Homo sapiens: one gene and its partner. The protein of the gene in region 1 purifies or fractionates together with the protein of each later gene. This does not show direct contact. Each region holds a gene or a part of one and is shown in the gene's direction. Other genes may lie near its edges. The genes, in order: NID1 and EOLA1.

Region 1 (4,532 bases):
TGTGAGTGCAAAATGAATGAATACTTGTAGAACACATGCTGTCTCTGATGGGTAATAAATGTTATTTCTGATGGCGAATGAATTCAAAAGAAAAAGACAAGTTCTCATGAGTAAATCAAAAGTGTTTTGCTTAGAAGGCATGTTTCCTTTGCTTTTTCTTCCTGTCTTTGCTGGTTCAGAACTCATGCCCCCTAAATTTTATACAGAATTTGCTGTTTTCTGAAAAATTATTATAAACTAGGTTCAAGGTCGTTACTTTTAGCTGCTGACAGGAAACGGGGACGTCCTGTTGACCGCTGATAGGTCTGACATCAAACATATCCAACTCCAGCTGTCCCAGATCCTCTTCCCTGACGTCAAAAGGCAGTACTGGTTTTCCAGTCCTCCAAGTGCAAACCCTTGAACTCAATTTTAACTTCGTTTCTTCTCCTCTTCAATGCCAATCTTATAATCAGGATTTGCTCCTTCTTTCATTTCAATGTTTTAGACTTGGTCCTCTAATAACTTACCTGTCTCTACTTTCACCCTAGTGCCAAAGTAACGATCAACCGATTATTCAGGATACCACTTAAATCGCTTATCTCCCTTTGTCAAGAACTTTCAATAGTTTCTTCTCCGAGTGACAGAGCGAATTCAAATTCCTAAATTTGTGATTCAAGGCTGTACTTCAACCGGTCCCTCCCCACATCCTCTGCTGGGGGATGGTGCCCTGAATAAACCCAGCTCGGTCCTCCACCTCCCTTCTCTGCCGCCTGATGACATCCCATTCCTTCCAGAGCACCCGGGTTGATTCCCGCCGTCCCACCTGCAGCTTTCCCCGCCAGTTTTTCCAGCCCTAATGTCTTTGATGACTTGGGGCCCCCATCTGACACTGGCTTGTGTTGTACACTGGTGACTTTGCCTCGGAGGGTGAGACCCCGTTTCCTGGCGAACCTCCACAATAGGGAGCACAGGATCAGGCACTCAAAAAACGCGCAATGAATGGGTGGATGAGCCCATGAACGTGTTGGTGGCTCTGTCCCTTGGCTGATTCCCAGCTCCCACCCCGTCTTCCTACCAGGGTCAAGCGAATTGGACCCCGGACGCGGCCGAGCGGCAATGGGGTGGGCGCCGTTCCTGAATCCGGAGCGTTTCCACGTCGCCGGCTCTCCACGACCCAACCCTAATCAGAGGACCACGGTGCGGGTCCCGCGCTCTGCTCCCCCTCCCGGAGGCGCCGTTCGCTGGGAGTCGGGCTGGTTTCGAGAATCGCAGGCACCGGCGCCCAAGGCGGGAGGTTCGGCTTCGCCCCTCGCCCTCCCCCTCGCGGCCATTGGGCTGCCCCGCGGCGCGCCCGCTGGACGGGGCGGGGCCCTCCGCTCTCCCCTCCGCTCCCCTCCCCTATTTCCCGGGGTGGGAACGCCGGGAGGCGGGAGGAGAGGGGGCTGCCAGGGGCGTCCGGTTACATCCCCGCCTTCCTCTGTCCTGGCCGCGGGACCGGGTTTGCGGGACCGCAGTTCGGGAACATGTTGGCCTCGAGCAGCCGGATCCGGGCTGCGTGGACGCGGGCGCTGCTGCTGCCGCTGCTGCTGGCGGGGCCTGTGGGCTGCCTGAGCCGCCAGGAGCTCTTTCCCTTCGGCCCCGGACAGGGGGACCTGGAGCTGGAGGACGGGGATGACTTCGTCTCTCCTGCCCTGGAGCTGAGTGGGGCGCTCCGCTTCTACGACAGATCCGACATCGACGCAGTCTACGTGAGTGAGCCCCGGGAGGGCGGGCGAGGGGCTGCAGGGCGCGGCGGGCCGGGGGCGCCCGTGGAGCCGGACGGACTTGGGCGTAGCAGGCGGGGACCCGGACCCGCTGGCCGCCGGGGCACCGGGCACGGCGCAGGGTCTCCCGCCTCTGCAGGGTCCGCGAAGGTCTTCCCGACCCGGTCCCTGCTATCCGAAGAGCGGGTCGCGGGGTCTGGGTGGCTCCGCGCGCCCCGGGCCGTGACCCCGGCACCCATGGACCCCGCGGAGCTTCCTCCCCGGCGGCTGTGGGCTGCATCGCCGCAGGGAGGTCAGTCCGCGTCCCTCGGCTGTCCAGTCCCTTCGGGGCTAGGACCTGGCCGGTCCCGGGTGGAGCCAGGTTCTCGCGCGGAGCCTCCGCAGGGCAAGAGCCGGAGCTGGATCGCAGTCTGCGCGCGGGCCCCGGGACTCTTGTGGCTGCGGGAGAGTTTCGCCGGCAGCCTCCTGTATTTGTGTGTGGACTCCGGATGTGTCTTGGCAGTGATGCTGCTTTCCAGTTGGGCTCGTTTCAGAGTCCAGAGTCCAGAGCGGGAAACACAGGGCTCCCAGTGATCCCATTTCCTGTGGCCAGGCATTGTCACCACGGAGGCCCCAAACGAGGAGCGGGACCAGATGACCTACAGCTCCCTGGATCCTCCCCGTGACTGGCCGGGCCTGGGGTCGCTGTCAACTTGTTGAAGTCCTTTCGTGCCGCTGCCTTCCTCGGCCGCCCACCATGTGGATTTCATATAAGGCTTGTGTGCATTCCAGAAGTGTGGGGGGTTGGCCGGGGGAAGGGGGTTGGAACTGCAAACGCAGCGGCTGCAGCCTGTCCTGCCCGTGAAATGGCTGTGCTCCCGGTCTGGCCTGGGAACACTGCGCCTTAGACAACACTCACGTGGAACTTGTAGGCTTTGCCTAAAACGAATGAGCCCTTCAAGTCTGGATCCACAAAGAGCCCTCCCCCATGTTGGTTGACTGCCCTGGCCCCTTTGCACACTGGTGAAGCCTGTGGATCCCTTTTCAGTATAACGCTTTTATTTTAGTTTTTAGAGAGACGAGGTCTTGCTCTGTTGCCCAGGCTGGGTGCAGCGGTGCGATCTTGGGTCACTGCAGCCTCCAACTCCTTGGCTCAAGCTGTCCTCTGGCCTCAGCCTCCTGAGTAGCTGGGACCACAGGCGAGTGTCACCATGCTGGGCAGTATAAAGTTTTAAATGCATAAAATAAAATCCACAAGATGACCAAGGAAGGCAATTATGTTGAAATACAGATCAAAATATTAAAAAAACACACATCTTATGCTCTTATGTACTATATATGCTTATATGCTTACTTTATTTATTTATTTATTTATTTATTTTTTTTTTTGAGACAGAGTCTCTCTCTATCCCCCAGCCTGGAGTTTAGTGGCACAATCTCAGCTCACTGCAACCTCCACCTCCTGGGTTCAAATGATTCTCCTGCCTCAGCCTCCTGAGTAGCTGGGATTACAGATGACTGCCACCACACTTGGCTAATTTTTGTATTTTAAGTAGAGACATGGTTTCACCATGTTGGCCAGGCTAGTCTTGAACTCCTGACCTCAGATGATCTGCCCACCTCAGCTTCCCAAAGTGCTGGGATTACAGGCATGAGCCACCATGCCTGGCCCAATATATGCTTACTTTTTTTTTTTTTTTTTTTTTTGAGATGAAGTCTCACTCTGTTGCACAAGCTGGAGTGCAGTGGCGAGATCTTGGCTCACTGTAACCTCCACCTCCCAGGTTCAAGCGATTTTCCTGCCTCAGCCTCCTGAGTAGGTGGGACTATAGGCACGCACCACCATGCCTGGCTAATTTTTGCATTTTTAGTATAGACGGGATTTCACCATGTTGACCAGGCTGGTCTTGAACTCCTGACCTCGTGATTCACCCACCTCCGCCTCCCAAAGTGCTGGGATTACAGGTGTGGGCCACCACGCCTGGCCTATATGCTTACTTTTAACAACATTAAATAACAAGGTGTAGCAGTGGATCCAAGGGCAGTTCAGGTAACGATTGAACTTTGAAGATCATGAGCAATATTCTGAGACACATGCAGCAACTATGATGTGATATGAAAATATCTGTGACTTCTATTAGTGACTGCTTTGTTGCCTGCATTCATAATTAAAGGAAATGCTAAATATCAGTTTTTGGTTATTCTTTTTTTTTTTTTTTTTTTTTTTGAGACAGAGTCTTGCTCTGTTGCCCAGGCTAGAGTACAGTGGCTCAATCTTAGCTCACCACAACCTCCGCCTCCCAGGTTCAAGAGATTCTCCTGCCTCAGCCTCCCGAGTAGCTGGGATTACAGGCGCGCACCACCATGCCTGGCTAATTTTGTATTTTTAGTAGAGGCGGGGTTTCTCCATGTTGGTCAGGCTGGTCTCTAACTCCTGACCTCAGGTGATCCGCCCGCCTTGGCCTCCCAAAGTGTTGGGATTACAGGCATGAGCCACCATGCCCGGCCATTAGAGATTTCTAAGTAGATGGCTGACACGATTTAACTTTAAAAGATTATCATTCTCTTCAACAAATAAATGGCATGGTGGGGAAAAAGAAGGAGGGAGACCTGGTGTGGATCAAAAGAGACTTCAGAGGCTTGCTGACCAAATGCAAGTGAGGACTTTGTTTCAGCCTGATTAAGACAAATCGGCCATAAAAAGGTGTCTTTGAGACAAACTGCATTTCGAGAAGAGGTATACATGCAAATGTGTAGATATAAGTTTCATTTCTCTTGGGTATATACCTAGGACTGGAATTCCTGGGT
Region 2 (4,270 bases), on another chromosome or scaffold:
CTTTCAGCTCTTTCCTCCAGCTCTGCACTAGCTCCTCCCCCACCATTCTCACCCGCCAGCCTTACTCCAGCTTGGCTCCCCCTTCTCCAGCAATTTCCCGCAGCCCCGCCCCATCTGCTCCCACACCTCTTTGCCACAGCCCCGCCCTGCTCCTCCTCCAGGAACGCCCGGCTTTCCCTCAGCTCCACGCTGCAGCTGAGCTGTGCACCAGGCCCTCCCACAGAGCTTTCTCGTGATTCCACCCTACACCTCCCCAAGCCCCCGCTCCCCTAAGCTGGTTCTCAGGAGTCCGAGGGGTCCTCCCGCAGCTGCTCCTCGCTCAGTTCTCCCATTGCCCCGCCCTGCTCTTCGCGGGGCTGCTTCCAAAGCCCCGACCTCAGCCAGCAGTTTCTCTCAGCCCCGCCCCTCCCTGCCCCGCCCCTCCCCTCCCTGCCCCGCCCCGCTTCTCCCGCGGCTGCTCCCAAAGCCCCGCCCTCGGCCCCCTCCCCAGCAGTTTCTCTCAGCCCCGCCCCACCCCGAGCCCCGCCCGCAGCCCCGACCTGCTTCTCCTGTGGCTGCCTCCAAAGCCCCGCCCCCAAACCTTCCCCAGCATTCTCAGCCCCCCCAGAGCCCCGCCTCTCCCAGCCCCGCCCTACTTCTCACGCAGCTGCTTTAAAAACCCCGCCCCCAGCCCCTCCCAGTGATTTCTTTCTCCCCCTCCCTCCTTCTCTCAGCGGACACCTGCCTCCCCCTGCTGATTCTCAAGAGTCCGCGAGCTCTTCCTGCAGCTTCTCCTCGCTCAGCTCTCCCACGGCCCTGCCCACAATGGTTTCTCTCAGCCCCGCCCGGCCCTGCCCCACACCCCGCCTCTTATCTCAGCCCCGCCCTCAACCCAGCCCCCAATTGTTTCTGTCAGTCCCGCTCGGCCCCTCCCCCAGCTCCGCCCTCCTCCTCTCAGCCCCGCCTCCACCCCCTCCCCAGCGGTTTCTCCCAGCTCCTCCCTGCTGGTATAGCAGCTCTGGGCCCAAAACTCCTGCCTGGTGTCCTCGTCCCACCCTTCCACTTACTCTTCCTCCCTCCCGTTCCTTTTCCTCCTTCCGGTTCTTCGTCGAGGCTGCCGGTCTCGAGGTCCCCTGGCCTTGGCCTGGTTGGCTGGCGCGCATCAGGGCCAGGTAAAGAGAATAGCGTCTCCTAGCAGCCAGGGCGTGCGTACGTGCGTGATGTCGTCAGTGCGTGTCTTCGAGAATGCGAGATTCATAATGTTTGCTGTCTATATGCATGGCTGAGTACGTGCCTCCCGCGTACGTGCGTGGTGTGCATACATGCGTGATTGCGCGCCCACGTACGTTCTTCGTGAAAGGGATGACGGGAGCTGTATGAAAGCGGAAGAGTTATAGACCGCTAACACCTGTCACTGGCCACTGGTTTCCCGGAGTTAGCGGCAACGACCTTGCAGCCTGGACACTAGCCAGGCGCTCCCTCTTCTCACAGCGGCCCACGTCTCCTTGCTTGGGAGCCCATCGTCCTGGCTCCGGTGGCCTCGCTGGGTCTCGGGGAAGCAGAGGACTGTTCATTCCTGTGGCGAAAAGCCGGAGTCGGCCCTAGACACCCACGACTCGCAGGGTCCATGGTTCCGGAGGCCGTGAGACCTGCCGGGGCTGACAGGTGCCAGGGCCCATGCTGCGGGAGCCTGTGTGCTCAGCCTTCTTGCGGACGGTACCTGAGGGCTGGGGTTTCCCTGGATGTGGGGCTGGGAACTCGTGCGGGGCGCGACCGAGGCGCCTTTTCCTGTCCCCTGCTGTCGGCAGGGTCTCGGCTCCGCTCCTTCTAAGCGCGTGTACCCGCGACGTGCGTCTGCGAGTAGAAAGCCCGTGTACTGCTCCACACACAGCGGCCCCACCTCAGTCCGGTCTTCCCTGCCTCCCGTTGGCCCTTCTGCTGTGAGCTCGCCTGGACCTGAGGCCGGGCGGTGCACAGCTCTGTGGCCTGTGGCGCCGTGCTCAGCGTGACCTACCCAGAATTAAGCTGAGGACAATGGGATTTAGAGTCCCAAACACTCGCCCCGTGACAATGGGAGGGGAAGTGTCATTTTTCTCCCTTCGAATGGAGCATGCTTGGCTGCAAGAATGCTGCTCAACATGGTGAAATGATTTTCTGCCCTGCGGGCTGGTGCACCCTGTGGTCCTTGACCCAGACAGGTGCGGAGGGTCCCACTGCTGTGATTAGCAGAACCAAACTGTGATGTGCACATGTGTGTTACTGATAAGACCAGGCCTCCCAGCTCTTCTTGGTTTCCAATGCCTGCTAAGTACATGACCTTCTTAGGGCCATTAACCAGCTTTGCTGTCTTGCACTTAATGACCTTTCCTCTTTATCTTCCTTGTTGTGCAGGTAAAGAAGCTAAGTGGAAGAGTGTTTCCTCCTCTGGCCGTAAAGCAGGTACTCTCTGCAGCACCAGGTAGGAGGGGACTCAACCCCCTTCTTGCCTTTTCAGTTACATCAGTTCCTACTAGGGATTCCACATACACACAGTTGGCGTCTGTTGTGATTTTGTGGTGATGACGAGAAAAGGGTTGGCTAAGAAACTGGGCGGCAGAAAAGAGGCAAACATTCACTGTAGCCATTTATCCCGATGGAAGTGGCCAGGCCCTGTGGGGGACATTCAGCCTCCATCAGAAGTAATCCAGAACCAAGGAACCTGGTTATCTTTGGTCACTCATCAGAAGAATAATCATGCTCAGGGGCCACAAGTGTGTGAGGAAATGGCACCATGGATGGGTTGGTGGAGGGTACACGGGTGAGTCTTTGTGGAAAGTCATTTGCTGGCAGATATCAGCATCTTAGATGGGCGTGCCAGGCGGCCGAGGCATTTCCTTCAGCATGTCTTCACACAGCGAGTGTTAGAGGTAATGTCATTTCTAGTGGCAAAAGTGGGAAGCAACTTGTAACTCTCCATCAGTGGAGGAATGGTCAGGCAAATTATGAGACGACCAACAATGGGATATCACCCAGGCAGTGAAAAACAAGGTAGATGAAGATTGTCAGGTGGAAAGAATGGGCTTGATGTGCTGTCAAATGGCAAACTCGTGCCCTAGCCTGTGCAGATGTGTTGGGAACAGCAGTTTGCCAAGATGGCTGAAACAAAGGACCATAAAAGGGCTGGCTTAAAGAACAGACAATCATTGTCTCGCAGTTCTGGAGGATGGAAGTCTGAAATCAAAGTGGTGGCCAGGTTCGTTTGTTCTGTGGGCTGTGAAAGACAATCTGGTCTGTCCCTTTCTCTTAGCTGCAGGCGGCTGGCCGGCAATCTTTGGCACTCATTAGCTTGTAGAAGCATCTCCCTTATCTCTGCGTTTATCTTCTCATGGTGTTCTCCCTGTGTGCGTGACTGTCTCTCAAATCCCCCTTTTCATAAGGACGCCAGCCACATTGGATGCGGGTCCGCCCTGATGGCTTCAGTCTCACTTGATTGCCTCTGTAATGACTCTGTTTTTATATATAAGGCCACATTTTGAGGTGCTGGGGTTTAGGACTTCAACATACGCATTTTAAGAGGACACAATGCAACCCATCACAACTGACAAAGGCTCTGAGGTAGAAACAAGCTTGGCATGTTCCCTCAGGGGATGGAAGGCCTGTGTGGCTTCAGGGTGGTGAATAAAGGGGAGAGGAGAGGACGTGGCTGGGGTGGGAAACCAGATCAGGAGGGACCTTGAGTGCCCTGAGAGGAAGTGTGGATTCTGTGCTAGTTGGGGCAGGGAGCCCTTGAAAAGTTTCAGTAGAGGAGTGACATAATCTCATTGTCCCTGTACCAAGATCATTCCGATGGCAGTGTGGTCACAAGAGTGCAGAGGACAAGTGCTGGGGGGGGGTGGGGGTGCTATCAGGAGACTTCTTCAGAAGGCAGGGGGTTTTAGGGGATTGGATTGGGATTGTGGCCATAGAGATTATGGAAAGGGATCAGATTCAATGTCGGTTTTGGACACAGTGCCACGGGATGTGGGCCGCAGATGTGGGAAAGAAAGGCAGGGCAGAGAGCAGCTAGGTCTGGGGCAGGAACGCTGTAGCTGGTGATGCCACTCACAGAGGTGGAAGGGAGGTGGACTTGGTGGTGATGGTTGGGGTCCTGAGTATGTACGGGCCTGTCCACCTAAGGCTGAGTCTGAAGGGGGGTGGCCTGCACCACGGGATTCAGAGCAGGACGGTGAGCAACGTGGGGGTCCCAGAAGGAGGGAAGGAGTGTGCCCAGCCATGCTGGGGCTGCTGAGCATGGACTAAGATGAAGACAGGA

What was found.
Region 2: the proteins of NID1 (region 1) and EOLA1 purify together in Homo sapiens (co-immunoprecipitation; one large-scale study listed by IntAct). This does not show direct contact.

The regions. Positions count from the first base shown.
Region 1 is NC_000001.11:236,062,053-236,066,584, reverse strand, and holds the start of NID1 (nidogen-1 precursor), read left to right. Parts: upstream 1-1,494; 5' UTR 1,495-1,505; coding exon 1,506-1,730; intron 1,731-4,532. UniProt on the Homo sapiens protein: Sulfated glycoprotein widely distributed in basement membranes and tightly associated with laminin. Also binds to collagen IV and perlecan. It probably has a role in cell-extracellular matrix interactions.
Region 2 is NC_000023.11:149,539,649-149,543,918, forward strand, and holds the start of EOLA1 (protein EOLA1), read left to right. Parts: upstream 1-1,363; 5' UTR 1,364-1,656; coding exon of another isoform or gene 1,657-1,695; exon of another isoform or gene 1,696-2,089; coding exon of another isoform or gene 2,090-2,177; intron 2,178-2,370; coding exon of another isoform or gene 2,371-2,437; intron 2,438-3,913; exon of another isoform or gene 3,914-4,270. UniProt on the Homo sapiens protein: May play a role in cell protection during the inflammatory response. In epithelial cells, negatively regulates IL6 production and apoptosis through the regulation of MT2A expression.